Linked DNA regions of Homo sapiens. The protein of the gene in region 3 purifies or fractionates together with the protein of the main gene of each other region. This does not show direct contact. Each region holds a gene or a part of one and is shown on either strand. Other genes may lie near its edges.

Region 1 (3,880 bases), on a different chromosome or scaffold from region 3:
CCAGCTTCTGGCTGTGAAGACAGCCCTAGCCAGGCCTCCTGTCAAGTCGCACTGCTGGCCCCCCACTCACCCTGAGCTCTTCCTCATAGCCCCTATGCAGCCCTGAGTCCAAGCTCAGTGGCGGTGACCCCCAAAGACCAGAACCAGCTGGTTCCAAAAGATGGAAGTTTGTGGCTGGAGGAGCTAGTGTTTTGGAAGCTGTCATGATGATTTTTCAGTCTACGGCTATTAAACTCATGACTTGTCCGATCTTTTTTCTTTGACTCTGCTCATCTCCCACCTCCCCCTGGGAGTTGCTCACTCTCAGCAGTGAATTATTGTTTCCCGTGCAGTGATGGTGGGGAGGGGGAGGTTTGCCCTGGCCAGCTCTGGCATTGAGGCAGGTGTCTGAGCCAGCTTCTAGGAGGAAGGCAGGGCGGGTGCCTCTTCTGGTTGGGGGACCAGCAGTTGCCAGATTCTCCTGGGAGTTGGGGTGGCTGGTTGAAGCCAGGGGTCAAGAGCTGGTGGGATGAGGCCTTGGCTTCTAGCTCTGAGCATTAGCTGAGTGGTCTTGGACAAGCCAGGCAGCCCTCTCCTCGGTGTGCCCACTTGTAGTATGGGGACATAGCACTGGCTACCTCATAGAGGGTTATTATGAGGAACAGTGAGACAGTGCATGTGGAACATTAGGCCACAGTGCCCAGCACATGATAGGTGCTCAATAAACTGTGGCTGGTGTAGTTAGCACCAGCCAAGGAGGGCAGCTGTCCTGCCTTCTCCAAGGAAATGCTTCTGATACTTGCATCCTTAGCCAGTAAGCTCAGGGGAGTAGGAGCCTGGGTGGGAGGAGGGCTGTGAAGCCCAAGGTAGGGGTGGCAGGAAGCAGGAGAGGGCTTCAGAAAATGTGGCTCTCAGCCCTCTTAGGGCCACTGCTGGGCTGGCAAATTCCCTGCCTCATTGGCCCAGCTTTTCCTCAATCACAGACAAAGCTAGTGAGCCCAGAATGGGCAATGTCTGGACTAGGCACCGTTACCTCTCTGGCCCCAGTGACAATTGGCCCTAGATGTGTAAGTATCTTAGGCTTGCTTCCTCAGGTCCAGGGGCCAGGAGAGAGTGACAGTCATGATTCCCAAAAGGCCATGACATTTTAGCCTGCACCCCTACCCCTGTGGAAGCATGGTTTGGTAGGGGGGTCCCAGGGAGCCTGATTGTATTTAACATTCTTTTCTGGGAGGAGGGAGACAAAATGACCAGCACACTTTGCCCAGTGGCTTGGCCAGTGGGTTATTCATTGTCATTCCAAGTTGATCAGGTAATAGGATCCATCTATCATTTTATCAGTTCATTCAGTCGCTCACCCATCATCCATCCATCCATCTACCTACCCACCCACATCTACCCATCCACCTACAAAACCAACCAAGTAACCGTTCACCATCCGCCTATCAATCCATATCCATACCATATCCATCCATCCATCTGTTCTTCCTATCCACTATTCATCCATGCACTATTCGTCCATGCTTCCCACCATCCATCCATCCATCCATGCATCCATGTATCCATGTATCTACCTGCTCTCCCACATCTACCCGTCGACCCACAAAACCAACCAAGTAACCATTCACCATCCACCTATCTATCCATATGTATATCCATCCGTCCGTCCGTCCATCCATCCATCCATCCATCCATCCATTTGTTCTTGTTCTTCTTATCCACTATTCATCCATGCACTATCTGTCCATGCTTCCCACCATTCATTCATCCATCCTCCAATCCATCCATCCACCATTCATTCATCTGTCCATCCACCATCCACCCATCCACCATCCATCCATCTGCCCATCCACCATCCATCCATCTGCCCATCCACCATTCATGCTTCCATCCATTCATCCACCACCCACCATCCATCCATTCCTGTACCCACCATTCATCCATCTATCCACCCGTCATCCATCCATTCATCTATCCACCATCCATCCATGCATCCATCCACCATCCATCCATGCATCCATCCACCATCCACTCATCCATTCATCCACCATCCATTCATCCATCCACCATCCATTCATTCATCCATCCACCATCCATCCATGCATCCATCCATCCATCCACCCACCATCCATCCATCAATCCACAATCCAACCACGCATCCAACCACCATCCACTCATCCATTCATCCACCACTCATTCATCCACCCACCATCCGCCCACCATCCATCCATCTGCCATCCATCCATCCACCTATTGTCCATCTATTCATCAATCCACCATCCATCCATGCATCCATCCACCATCCACTCATCCATTCATCCACCATTCATCCACCCACCATCCATCCATCATCCATCCATTATCCATTCAGCCATCCATCTGCCATCCATCCATCCATCCATCCATCCTTCATCCACCATCCATCCATCCACCCACCCACCATCCATCCTTCATCCACCATCCATCCATCCACCCACCCACCATCTATCCATCCATCTATCCATTCATCTTTCATCCATCCATCCGTCATTCATCCATTCATCCATTTATCCATCCGTCCATCCTCCATCTTCCATCCACCATTCATCCATCCACCCACCATCTATCCATCAATTCATCATCCATCCATCAATTCACCATCTATCCACTTATTCACCATCCATCCACCATCCATTCATCCATCCACCCATCCACCATCCATCCTTCCACCCACCGTCTATCCATCAATTCATCATCCATCCATCTATTCACCATCTATCCACCATCCATTCGTCCATCCACCCATCCACCATCCATCCACTATCCACCCATCCACCATCCGTCCAGTGTCCATCCATCTGCCATCCATCCATCCATCCATCCATCCACCCACCATCCATCCATCTATCCATCCATCTACCCACCATCTATCCATCAATTCATCATCCATCAATCTATTCACCATCCATCCACCATGCATTCATCCATCCACCTATCCACCATCCATCCATTCACTATACAATTATCCGTCCACCCATCAGAGACTTCTGGAATATCTTCTCTGAGCTGGGTACTGAACACAATGTGTGTTGTCTAACTTTCTGGGCTTTTGCTTATCTCTGTGGCTCTGTCCTTATTTCACTCTCCTTCCCTGTCTCTCTCTCTCCCTCTGTCCCCATATCTGTCAGTTTTCGTCTCCCCTGAGGTCATGCCCCTGCCTCTCCCTTTCTGTCTGGCCGTTTTTCTCTCTTTTGTCCCTCCCTGTCCCCCCAGGTTGACTTCCCCTCTCACCATTCTGTCCTCCTCCTCCCCACCCATGCCCTGGGCCTCTCCCTGCTTTCCCTGCACCCCCAGGGTGACTCCCCCCAGGCCCCAGTCACTTGGGGTAAATGCCTCATCTATCCCCGTCTCTTCCCTCCACTCCCCACTCAGGACTGATGCTTTCTTTTGATGTGACACCAATGAGGTGATGTCTGGGTTTTGTTAAATGTCATAAATAAATTATGAATCCTCTCTTGGGCGGTGTACTGCCCCCCTTTGCCAGCATAAGCCCTGTCTCATGGGGGGAGGTTCGAGGACTAACGGCAGCCTGAGAACTCCTTGGCCAGCGTCTAGGGTGGCCCTGAGAACCTCTGGCCCAGCAGTGGCCAAACTAGAGACCGCTGCCCTCTGCCCTTCACCACTGCCGCCCTGACCCTCCTGGGTCTCGCTGGGCTCTGCCTGCCATTGCTGAGCCCCTGCAGGCATCGTGTGGGTCCTTTGCATTCACAGTTTTTACTTCTCCCCATAGCCCTGGGGGAAAGGCTGCCACATTAGGCCCATTTCACAGATGAAGAGAGAGGCTCAGTGGGGAGGGGACTTGCTGGTATCACCTCCAGGAGGGGTAGCTTGAAGCCTCTGCTGCCCCTGTTGCTCCCTCCTC
Region 2 (4,334 bases), on a different chromosome or scaffold from region 3:
CAGGCTGGAGTGAAGTGGCGCGATCTCGGCGCAATGCAACCTCCGCCTCCCGGTTCAAGTGATTCTCCTGCCTCAGCCTCCCAAGTAGCTGGGATTACAGGTGCCCGCCACCGTGTCCGGGTAGCTTTTTTATATTTTTAGTAGAGATGGGGTTTCTCCCTGTTGGTCAGGCTGGTCTCAAACTCCCCACCTCTGGTGATCCACCCACTTCAGTGTCCCAAAGTGCTGGGATTACAGGCGTGAGCCACTGCGCCCGGCGCTACTTATAACTTTTTAAGAAACTACCAAGCCAATTTCTAGAATGGCAGCACCACTTTGCCTTACCACTGGCGATGTCCCAAGCTGCTCCGCGACCTCAGTGATGCTTGGCACTTGTTAGCAGTTTTTACCTGAGCCACCTGGCAAGTGTGCAGTGGCACCCACCGCGATGCTGGCCGGCCCTTCCCTGACAGCCATCCCTTCCCGAGCCTATTGCCATCCCTGTGCCCTCTTCGGTCAAACGTCTGTTGCGGCTCTTGCCAATTTTCTAACTGGAATGTTTGTTTTCTTGCGGTAGAGTTTAGAGATTTTTACATATTATCAGCCTGGGGGCTCCTCCACCCACACAGCCCTGAGCGTCCACCCTGGCAGCTGTTGCCCGTCTGCAGGCCCCCCCGCCCTCTGCTCCGCGTGCCCCTCCAGCTCAGGGGTCCCCTCGCCTCGGCTCTCTGCACCCCTGCTCAAAACGGTCAAAGAACCCTCCCCGGCCGTTTATTTTTCCCAGAAAGTGACAATTTTCTCTTTTCAGGTCGTAAGCACAGAACTGAGGGAGAAACTGTGGCTGAACAAGAGGAAAATGAGGAAGGAGTCCATGAAGGGGCTTTGGGGAACCTGTAACATCCTCCTCAGGCTCCCGGGGACGCCCCTGGAAAGCAGGCAGAATCGAGGGCGCTGGGGCCCCCGCGAGGGGAGCGGGAGGTCGCGCGTCTCGCAGCGGTTCCCGGCCGCCGGTGACCATCGCTGCGGACACATCCCGAGGAGGGAACCCAAGAGGGCGGCGGGGGGGACTCGCGAGCTGAACGTGGAAGCAACTCCAGCCGAGGACCCCCGGAGGCCTGGAGTGCACGGAGGGGCCGCGGGCAGCGTGGGGACGGCGCCGTCATCTCCCGAAGCCCGGCCCCGCGCTGGCTCCCCGGGCGGTGCAGGGCCGGCGTCGGGAAGGAGGCTCCGAGGCGCCGGCTTCTGCGCCCCACGCAGCGCCGCTCCCCGCGCCCGGGCGCTTTGCAGGCGCGGGCGGGATCCGGGCCAGCGTGTACGCGAAAGCCACGCGCGGGCGCAGCCCACGAGGGGAGGGGCGGGGAAAGGCCTCCTCTTCGCTCCCGGCCCCGCCCCCACACGGCCACCGAGGCGTGCGGTCCTCCCGGGGCCCAGAGCGTCCCGGAAGTGCGCGCCGGCCGGGCGGAGTGGGGCGGGGCCGGACACTTCCGTCCGGCGCGCGGCGTCCTCCTCCCGCTCGGAAGGTGAGTGGGCGCGGGCGGCGGCGGCGGCTCCGGGTGCCTGGGACCAGCCCAGTCCGAGCTCGTGCGCCGTACTCCGCGGTGCAGCCCTGCCCAGCCGGGCCGTGCGGCCCTTGCAGCCGCCGCTCGCCGTGACCTTGGCCTTGGGCCAAGCCCGGGGAGCGGGGTGGGCTCCTGGGGGTCGCGGAGCAGCAGCGGACCGCCCCGCCCAGCGGCCCTGGCGATAGCGGGTGTCCGTTCGCAGGGCGCCTTTCCCAGGCACCCAGTGACGGCAGCTGTCGTCATCGCCACTCTGCAGATGGGAAACTGAGGCCCGGAGGTCCCGCCGCTCCGGAGCGAGGAGCCGCCGGACCCCAGCGCCGCACCGCCGGGCGGACGCGCTCTGTGCCGAGCTCCCGGCGATTGGGTCCGCTCCCACGGGGCTGGGAACAGAGGGGCAGAGGATGCTTCCCCCGAGCCGCTGGCAGGAGTGCCCTTCCCCCTTCAGTCTGGAGCTCAGAGTTTGTGCGTCCCTGGGGGTGAAGGGGCGTCCACGCTGTGATGGTCGCCTCTGCTCAGTCCTGGGGGCCAAGCCAGGGTCGGGGTGATCGAGCAGGCCCTTTTACCAGGTGTCCCCAGTAAGTTAACTAAGTAACTTGAGATGTGACTTCAGGGTGGAGGACCTGCACCCAGTGGCCACCTACCTGGTGACCTGACCCTTCCCATCATTAGGGGATGGAGGCTGGCCCAGAAGCCGGGCACTGGGGTGGCGGCCGTGTGGGAGCTGCCTCTCCCACTTCCTCGAAGCAGGCACTGTCTGCTGTTCTTAGATCTGAGTATCCGTTAACTTTTGTCCTCTTTTCCCGTTCCTTTCTTCACTCCCTGCCCCAGATTAGGAGTTCCTACTCTATCACAGTATGAAAGAAAAGTCACTTTTCACATTGGACTCAAGCCGTTTTTGCAAAGTAAACTAAGAAGTGTCTTGGAGCCCTGAGTGAGTCTCCCAGTGCTGCTGCAGGGCTGGACTAGGGGATTCCAGCCTGCAGTCTCTGAGGGCTCTGTAGGGTCTGAGGAAGAGAGTTGCCCTCTGGAAACGTCTCTTCTCTGCTGTTCGGGAAAAACCTTATTAAGATTTCCTCCAAAACACTCATGCGCAGCAGGCATGGTTCGGTTTTCAGCCCTCCCACAGGGCCAGCAGCTGAGGTTTTTCTGGAAGACTCCCTATGCCTTTCTCTGGGGGAGGGGTGATGCCACGGGCTGGAAGGAGATGCCAGAGCCTCTGCTGGGACAGGAGCTTCGCTTCAGCCCCCACAGGCGTCTGCTGTGCCGCCCAGGCGGTGGCTGCTTCCTAAGCGCGCCTTCCAAGGCGTTACTCCTTTGCTGCTGCTGCTGCTGCTGCTGTTGTTTGAGTCTTGCTGTGTCTCCCAGGCTGGAGTGCAGGGGCGCCATCTCGGCTCACTGCAACCTCCACCTCCTGATTTCAAGCTGTTCTCCTGCCTCAGCTTCCCAAGTAGCTGGGATTACAGGTGCCCGCCACTGCGCCCAGCTAATTTTTATATTTTTAGTAGAGATGGGGTTTCACCATATTAGACAGGCTGGTCTCAAACTCCTGACCTCATGATCTACCCACCTCGGCCTCACAAAGTGCTGGGATTACAGGCATGAGCCACCGTCCCCAGCCACTCAAAGCGTTATTCCTTACTGAATAAATGTGCCAGGTCCCCCAACTGCCTCACCCCAGGCCTATGTGTCTCTGTGGGTTCATCCTCCATCCTTGCTCCTCCTGGAGTGGATAAACCTCCATCTCCCCTTGGAGAGCTGGCATGTTGCCTCCTCCTGCACCATCCCCCCGACATTCCTCCCAATCCCCTCATCTGCCATGGTTTTCATTTTCCCCAGGTCCCAGGTGTGACACCTTCAGCAGGTCTCAGGGAAGATGGCAGCCCTAGGGGACATTCAGGAGTCCCCTTCTGTCCCGTCCCCTGTCAGTCTCTCATCACCGGGGACACCTGGAACCCAGCACCACGAGCCTCAGCTTCACCTCCATGGGCATCAACATGGTACTCACCCAGCCCGCTGTGCGCCCTCCACCCTGCATCCCCTGCCCTCACGTCCCCTGCCCTGTCTCCTCCTGACCTGCCACGCTGGCTGACTTGAGAGGCGCCTCCAGACACCTGTATGCAGCTCCTTCAGCAGCTGGGGTTCCCACACCCTCAGGCCAGGGGCTCGGCGCGGGTTGGGTTGGGGCAGCGGTGGTTGAGGCTGGGGCCAAGCCTGAGCTCTCGCTCCCTAGGGACAGCTCCCCGCATTGTTTCTTTCCTGAGTTGAGGTATAGGAGGGAAAGTGGCCTCAAAATCTGGATCCAGCGTGACCAGGAGCAAGGCATCGCCCCTCTGAGTGTGTGTTGTCATTCAGGAAGTGGAGCAGCCAGAGTCCTTGCCAAGCTGGTTTGGGTGTGATCCCCCGGGACTCGCAGGGACAGAGCGCCAGCCTTGCTCCACCCCTGATGTTGTGGCCTCATGGTCACATGGCAGGCTCTGGGAGTTGAGGTGTGGGGGAGTCCCAGCCCCATAGTGCCCCTGGCTCTACTCCCTCTCAGAGGTCAGGGATCCTGAGGCTACATCTCTGCTGGGTGTTCCACAGGAGGCCTGGCCTCGGCCCTCGTGGCCCAACCCAGCACATGAGCTGCTGACAGCAGGGGCAAGGCCCCATATAGGTCAAGCCTGGAGAGCCCGTGCCTGGCCCAGGAATGGGGGCAACCTGGCACAGGGTTCTCCCTCTTGGGGAGTCAGAGTCCTGGTGGCTGAAGGGACCACTGAGGCTTGTGGAGAGCAGCTGCGCTGCATGGGGCCCTCAGGT
Region 3 (3,880 bases):
ACTTCTCTGAAAGGTTGCATTATTCCTCCTCCCCATTCACTCACCAGCAACCCCAATACATGTGATGTTCTTTAGACCACATTTACAGTCACTGCTCACTTTTGAGGAAACATGAAAAACAAATGCAAAAAATACATACCACTTTCTTTCCAGAAGGTTCCCAGAGAGAAACATCACCCCATGATGTGTTATGAAAGTATTTCTCTCCTGGATCAAAGCCTTTAAGGTCCTTTTAAAAAGGGAGAAAAAAAAGAGATTATGTAAATTCAGAAGATAAAGAAATATTTAATTAGAACCTGATGAGATTATAAGGCCGGGCATAGTGGTTCATGCTTGTAATCCCAGCACTTTGGGAGGTTGAGGAGGGTGGATCACTTGAGGCCAGGAGGTCGAGACCAGCCTGGCCAACATGGCGAAACTCCATCTCTACCAAAAAATACAAAAATTAGCTGGGCATGGTGGCACATGCCTGTACTCCAAGCTACTCGGGAGGCTGAGGCAGGAGAATTGCTTGAACCCGGGAGGTGGAGGTTGCAGTGAGCTGCACTCAAGCCTGGGAGACAGAGCAGGACACCATCGAAAAAGAAAAGAAGAAAGAGAGAGAGAGAGACAGAAAGAGGGAGAGGGGAGAGGGGAGGGGAGAGGAGAGAGGGGAGGAAGAGGGGAGAGAGGAGAGAGTGAGAGAGAGAAAAAAAGAGAGAAAGAGAAAAAAGAAAGAGAAAGAGAAAGAGAAAAGAGAGGAAGGAAGGAAGGAAAAAGAATGAACCTGATGACATTACTTGGTACCTAAGAAATCTACAGGGGAAAAGAGAAATGAAAGTATAGTCATCCCTCGGTATCCATAGGGGACTGGTTCCAGAACCACCTGGAGGCACCAAATCCAAGACTGCTCAAGTCTCTTATGTTAAATCGTGCAGTTACTTGCATGTAACCTATGCACATCTTCCTACTTACCTTGTTTAGAGAACAGTGACAAGAAAACAAGTCTGTACATGTTCAGTACAGATGCAACCATGCATTTTCTCTCCCAAATATTTTCAACAGACAGTTGGTTTAATCAACAGATGCAGAACCCCTGGATACAGAGGACAGACTATAAAGCTCTCAGCAAGTTTTGATGGAGTACCCTTTAAGTATGAAATCTGAGGAAAAGGTTGAAATAATCCAAGTCAAAATTACAGATTCATAAGAAATAAACAGAGGAGACCTCCCAACAAATAACTATCTACATCCTCTATATGTACGCAAAGCCTAAACGTAAGGATTCTAAAACCCATGTAGCTTCATGAGTACATATAAAGAAACAAAAAAGTACTTCAAAGTAAAACAATCTTCATCTGGGTTGGTTCCAAGTCTTTGCTATTGTGAATAGTGCTGCAATAAACATACATGTGCATGTATCTTCATAGTAGCATGATTTATAACTCGTCATTTACATTAGGTATTTCTCCTAATGCTATCCCTCCCCCTGCCCCCCACCCCATGACAGGCCCGAGTGTGTGATGTTCCCTGCCCTGTGTCCAAGTGTTCTCACTGTTCAATTCCCATCTGTGAGTAAGAACATGCAGTGTTTGGTTTTCTGTCCTTGCAACAGTTTGCTCAGAATGATGGTTTCCAGCTTCATCCATGTCCCTGCAAAGGACATGAACTCATCCTTTTTTATGGCTGCATAGTATTGGTACATGTATACATATGCAACAAACCTGCACGTTGTGCACATGTACCCTAGAACTTAAAGTATAATTAAAAAAAAAAAAAAAAAGAATCTTCATCTTGAACACCGTCTTTTTAAACTATACCTTACCGCTATTGTTCAATCCATTCGTCTTAGGGAATGAAAGAAAAGTGTATTTTTTTCTTACTCTTTAAATACCTTTCAAAGCAGTTAAACAAAGATCTAGAACGTATAGAGGATTTTTTTCTCAGATGGAATCAATCATTTTTCACTCAAAAAGTTACACTTGCTAGAGTGAGAAAATTATGCAAAAGACCTATAGTGTAGACAAGGGTGTCAGGAAAACCTCACAATCAGCTGAAAGAGGCAGTAGTGTGAGAAACACACTGCGTATTGGTAACTCTCAGGGGCAGGTGAACATGGAGAGAAGAGGAGCACGCAGGTCCCAGAAAGGGGTCCAGAGGCCAGAAATGCATGAGCCGAGACCTCCCACAGCAGCAGCATCCTCAGAGCAGGGGTTCAACGGCTGACTTCCAAAGCCTGCTGGCAGCAGGTAGGGAAGGGAGGAAACGTAGAAGGAAGGCCTCCACCTTACGTGCAGGTAAAATGGCCTAAGACAAAACAATTACAAGCTCCACAGAACAGTAATCTACCTCATCCTTTCGCAGTCATCACTAATCCAACCCTCAAATATTTCCTTTTGGACTCTGGGAACCCAACCATGGATAAGACAGATGGGATCCCAACCTCACAGTTTCACAACTGAGAAACACAGATATTTTGTAAAATTGTTTTTCACAAGAAACTACTGTCTTTCATGGGTGGTAGGTGCTATGAATAATGACTGTGAAGTGGTAAAGGAGTATAACGCAGAGAGCTCCAACTGTGTCTGCCTGACCTGACGTGGGCGGGGGGGCGGGGGCTGGGGTGGCTAACATGACAGGGAGGGAACAGGAGAGAGAGAAACAACAAGGCCTGGGGCAGAATCCTGATGAAGTGCAGGGCGGCAGAGGGTTTTAAATAAAACTGTATCAAAAAGTGAAAATCAGACACTGAGAAGGTGTACAAGAAAAACATTTTCCATTTCTAAAATTGTAAAGTCCATGTGGCCCAAGATTACTTTTCTTCTTTTTCTCTGAGTTGAAAGAAGTAAAAATCTACTCCTGTTTTGCTCTCAGCTACTTCACAAAGCGTGTAGAAAGTGTAGTCATACAAAACACTTTCTTTACCTGTGCAGCATAGCTCACTTATTTAAAAGTGCAGACTGTATTAAGAAGTGAGCATAAAGACGTATCAAGTCCATAATCGCGTGATATGGACAGTCCTGTGAGGTAACAGTGCATTCAGAATTAGCTCACGAAGCCAACTTCAGAACCTACAGAAAAGTATAAGTACAAATGCTCAAAGACAAATGAGACAAATGCTCAAAGAATGGGCCCATCCTCACAGGCCCTTTAGGGGAGGGGTCATGACAAAAGCACCAGGAGCACCTGGATGTTGTAACATTTGAGCATCAGAAAGACAAATGGCCGTAGAGACCCAAACACACGAAGTCACAGGAGATCCACAGAAGTGCTCAAGAAAGTCAGAAAAAAAGGCATTTCACGAATCACCATTGGGAAAGGTTAACTAACTACTCACTTTGAAAAGTCACAGCTCAAAGGAAAGGATAAAACTATCCTGCCTTTCCCAGAGGCACTATATTTCAGAGAAACCAAACAGTCCCAACTGCTGAGTAAAACAAGAGTTTACAGAAGAATGTCTGCTAACAATCTACATGTGACAGAATCAGAAACACCTCATTCACAGCAAGCCCCCAAATAAAACTACCATCTAGGACCAGGATCATCAACAGGTGTTAAATGCATTGCATTCCAGTCCACAGAAAGAACATAATGCACACAAAGACCAGACTGCCATCTATTGTATTGAAGCAACAAAATATGACTGGGGTCCCTGAAGTGACACAAGAAGCATAGAACATCATATATATTCTAGCCCAAAATGTTTAACTTGAATCAACTGGGCCTTTCAGTAGAACTTCTCATTTAAAAGAAGCTCAGGGGACAGGGGACTAAGCTGAAACAACACTATAAGAAAGTACCAGACACATCTGGAAGGAGGGGCATCTCTGCAGGACAAGAGGCTGGTCTGGCCAACAGTCAGGGAAAGCACTGCAAACCCAACCACTAGATGTAACAGGGT
Region 4 (3,880 bases), on a different chromosome or scaffold from region 3:
ACTTGACAAAAATAAGTCTGTAAATTTCCATGTCAGATCTCCCACTGAGGACAAACGGGCAGGATGGGATCCATGTCTTGAGACCCGTGTGGTCAGCAGCCCATTTTCTCTTGAGCAAGCACAGATGCCTGTGAAGGGACAAGGAGGTGGAGAAGCCGGGAGGCGCTGGAGGAGGGGGCAAGGCTGACGCACGGCTCTCGAGCCCGAGGAAGTGCCCCTGTGGCCTGGGCTTTCCCGTACGGGACGGCCAGGAGAGCGATGGCCGCCCCGCCACTCAGCAAGCGGACTGGTGTCAGCCTAAGTCTGACAGTCCCCCCTCTAGCTGCCATTCACAGGAAGGAGAAACTCATTTTCCAGTCGTTTAAAAGGTGCCAAGGGTTGTATCATCTCGTAGCACGGAAGCAGCTCGGCCCTGGGCTCTGCGCCCGGTCCCCTGGGCTCACCAGGCCCTCCCAGGAAGCCGCCCAGGCCTGCTCCCACCTCCATCCTCGCAGAGCCTGCAAACCCCCCTCCCATGCCTGGGGACGCCATGGTGCTTCCTACGTTCTGGAAGTAGGAGGGGGCAAACTGTGAAGGGGTGACAGGAGCTGGGGTTGGGCAGACGCCCCCATTCCCTGTGCAAACACTCACCCCTCCCGGAGCCTTCTGTGGGGCAACTGAGTCACGGACGGGGATGCTGGGTGCTTGCTGTGCTCGAACTGGCATTTGCGGGCCCAGCCCCTATGAGCTGAGGGCCTGTCTCAGTGAGCAACGGCACCACCTCATGTGCCGCATGTCCGTTCCTTCCTGGCGAATTCGTGAGCACCTGCTGCATTCCTGAACTGCGCTGAGGACGCGGGCCTGAGCAGAGATGTCCCCACCTCAGGGGCTGACATCCCAGGGAGGAAGACGGGGAGTGAGTAAGTTGCATGGTCCAGATGGTCTCAGACAAACCTACGAGGAGGCCTGAGTGACGTGGACGAATGGGTATCTGGGTGGCGGGGATGGTTACGGGTTGAACGGGGCCCGCCCGGAAGCTCACGTCCACCTGGAACCTCGGAATGTGGCTTATTTAGAAACAGGGTCTTTGCAGAAGTAATTAGATAAGATGCCCTCAGCCAGGACTGGGGATTAGTGGGCCCTAAATCCAATGACTGTGGCCCTTCTAAGACGAGGAGAGACAGTGGGGGTTTGGAGGGGAGGACGCCCCTTGGGGGCCGAGGCGGGGGCTGGGGTGGTGCAGGGGGCCGAGGCGGGGGCTGGGGAGAGGCAGGATGTGTCTTACCCACTGCCTTCAGAGGGAGTGTGGCCCTGCGCGCCTGACATCCAACTCCCGGCCTCCTGTATGAGGGGACAGGTGTGTGAGGGGACAGGTGTGTGGGCTCCTGTGTGAGGGGACAGGTGTGTGAGGGGACAGGTGTGTGGGGTGGAGCCTCCCCACTCGGTGCCACTGCAGTGACCTGGGACACACACAGGTGGGTGGGGAGGGAGCCACTCTCTGAATTGTGAATGAGGAGAAGGAGCTGCCAGGAGAGAATCCGGGGGAAGTGCTGGGTGTCGGTGGCAGGTGCAGAGGCCACAGTGGGCCCTGGGGTTGGGGTGGTCAGGGCGAAGTGAGTGAGGGAGATGGTGAGGTGCTAGGGCAGGGGGCTGCCAGGACAGCCTGTTGGCCCCGGAAGGGTGCTGGCTGCACTCCCAGGCTCCGGACCATGCCAGAAGGTTCTTGACGAGGGATGTGACACTGTGGGTGCCTGTTTTGTGGGGGCACTGAGGTCCCATCTCTGGTGGTGCCCGTCTCACTAGCTGCTTGAAGCACATTTTCAGTTTCACTCGGATCTGCCAGGACCCAGATGAGACGGGCGACTCATTAGCAGACGGGAAACCAAGGTCTCCGGAGCAGCTGGTGTACCATGGCCTTGATTCTGGACCCACAGGGGCCTCGACTCCGGACCGACAGGGGCCTCGACTCCAGACCCACAGGGGCCTCGACTCTGGACCAACAGGGGCCTCGACTCCGGACCCACAGGCACCCTCAGTCAGGGCTGACACAGGTGGGGCAGTTCTTCCTGGCGGGGCCGCCCCCTGGGTGGGTTGTGGATGTTGAGCAGCGTTTGGCTCCACCCACTGCCAGGCACCCTCCTCCCCGCTGGGACGCCAGGAGGCCCCTGGAGCGAGAGTCCACCCTGGGCACCTGCCTCACTGACTGTGGCGTCGACCGCCTGGGTTCAAACCCAGCTCCTCCCTCCTCAGCTGCACGACTGTGGGCCGGTCACACGACCCCTGCACCTTGGTTTCCCTATCTGTAAAGGGGGGATGCCCGGAGCAACAGCCTCGGGGGGCCCTGTGGGCACTGAAGGAGGCACGCGGCACAGCAGAAGGACCCCCCCGCTGGCGCCGCCCACCTCCCCTCGCCTCTGAGATGAGGGTGGGCTGATGATTCTCCAACCCCGAGGGCACCTGGTGGGGGCGGAGGCCTTGAGCTGGCCCAGGGACATGGAGTTGGAGAGAATCAGATCATGCCGAGGGAGCTTCCCTCCACCTCCTCCACCGTGTCCCACGGATCCAGGCACACGGGCTTTGCTAACAGACACACCTGGCCATACTCTCAATGCAGCATCCCATTTCCATTCTGTTTACTGATATTTACTAGTAAAACGATACATGTTTTCTATTGTTGGTGCCAATCCATCACTTATTTAAGAAACGAATTAATTTAACTTAAAAGATGAGTCGATTTAAAAGAAACTGTTAAGTAATATGAACTCAAGCTTCTGTAGAGACGACAGATTCCCCAGGAATCCAGAAAGATCCGAGGTGGGGGCGTCTGTGCCTCGTGGCCCTCGAGGGCTCTGGGCCGTGTCTGCCGCACCCGCGTCCTCGAGGCGGAATCGGAACCCGGGAAGTGAGGTCCCGGCTCTGCACGCAGCACCCTCCCCGGGCGTTCTGTGCCTCTCAGTGTGAGTTTAAACAACAACAAATAAAAATAAAACAAGCGCGTGTGTGGATGTGCTGTGGGGAGGCTCCTGGGCTTGGCGGCCGGCCCTGGCACATTGTACCCACACGGACTTGGGGATGTCGCTGCAGGAGCAGCTTGAGGCTCGCCAGCCCTGTTAGCAGCTGAGATCTTTGATTTTCAGCTACAGAAAACTCAAGTCTGACAGAGTGAACGCTAACGGGACCCAGTGGCCCAGTGGTTCTGGCAGAGGGGATAGCGTGACCCAGCGGTGGGGGCCGCTGGCCGCCCCCTTTTCCTTAGGAGCGCCTGCCTCGTGTGCCCGCCTGCATGGCGGGGTCAGTGAGTGCCTCCGAACCTCCGGAGGCTGAGGGTGGAGAAGACACAGGTTCTACAGGAAATCCGGCTTCTCCCTAGAAGGACGCGGGAGGCTGGGCACCCAGGCCCGAGGAATGTCTTCTGTCTACGTGGGGCTGCGGGAGGAGCACCCGAGGCGACCTGAGGTGACCTGTGGCCGCGTGTTGTGCCGGGTACAGCTGTGTGTGTGGCGGAGTGGGGTGTTGACCTGCCCCAGACGGAAAGGCCTGTTGAAAAGCAAACTCAGCTAGTGTGTGCGTCAGGGCTCTCCCGAGGAAAGGAGCCGGCGGATAGAGAGAGACCCAAGAGGAGATGTAGGGTGAGGATTGGCTCCCGTGACTGTGCAGACCAAGAGGCCCCATCATCTGCCGTCTGCAAGCTGCAGGCCCGGGAAGCTGGGTGGGGTCCTTTGGCCTGAGTGCAGAGACCTAAGAGCCAGGGTCACGCTGAGGAAAACGGCATAACTTCTACTCCAAAGGCCCGAGACCTGGCAGCTCCACCCGATGTCCACAGGCAGGAGCAGAGGGAGGTCTCAGCTCACACAGGACATGAAGCTGCCCTCCTCTGCCTTTCTGTTCCAGCCGGGCCTCC

Evidence for each region.
Region 1: the proteins of ADNP2 (region 3) and CHD5 purify together in Homo sapiens (affinity purification with mass spectrometry; one large-scale study listed by BioGRID and IntAct). This does not show direct contact.
Region 2: the proteins of ADNP2 (region 3) and GLI4 purify together in Homo sapiens (affinity purification with mass spectrometry; one large-scale study listed by BioGRID and IntAct). This does not show direct contact.
Region 4: the proteins of ADNP2 (region 3) and GALNT9 purify together in Homo sapiens (affinity purification with mass spectrometry; one large-scale study listed by BioGRID and IntAct). This does not show direct contact.

The regions. Positions count from the first base shown.
Region 1 is NC_000001.11:6,173,480-6,177,359, reverse strand, and holds part of CHD5 (chromodomain-helicase-DNA-binding protein 5), read left to right. Parts: intron 1-3,880. UniProt on the Homo sapiens protein: ATP-dependent chromatin-remodeling factor that binds DNA through histones and regulates gene transcription. May specifically recognize and bind trimethylated 'Lys-27' (H3K27me3) and non-methylated 'Lys-4' of histone H3.
Region 2 is NC_000008.11:143,265,986-143,270,319, forward strand, and holds the start of GLI4 (zinc finger protein GLI4), read left to right. Parts: upstream 1-1,459; 5' UTR 1,460-1,499; intron 1,500-3,374; 5' UTR 3,375-3,411; coding exon 3,412-3,535; intron 3,536-4,334.
Region 3 is NC_000018.10:80,129,452-80,133,331, reverse strand, and holds part of ADNP2 (activity-dependent neuroprotector homeobox protein 2), read right to left. Parts: intron 1,143-3,880; exon of another isoform or gene 955-1,142; intron 230-954; coding exon 140-229; intron 1-139. UniProt on the Homo sapiens protein: May be involved in transcriptional regulation. May play a role in neuronal function; perhaps involved in protection of brain tissues from oxidative stress. May be involved in erythroid differentiation.
Region 4 is NC_000012.12:132,319,295-132,323,174, reverse strand, and holds part of GALNT9 (polypeptide N-acetylgalactosaminyltransferase 9), read left to right. Parts: intron 1-3,880. UniProt on the Homo sapiens protein: Catalyzes the initial reaction in O-linked oligosaccharide biosynthesis, the transfer of an N-acetyl-D-galactosamine residue to a serine or threonine residue on the protein receptor. Does not glycosylate apomucin or SDC3.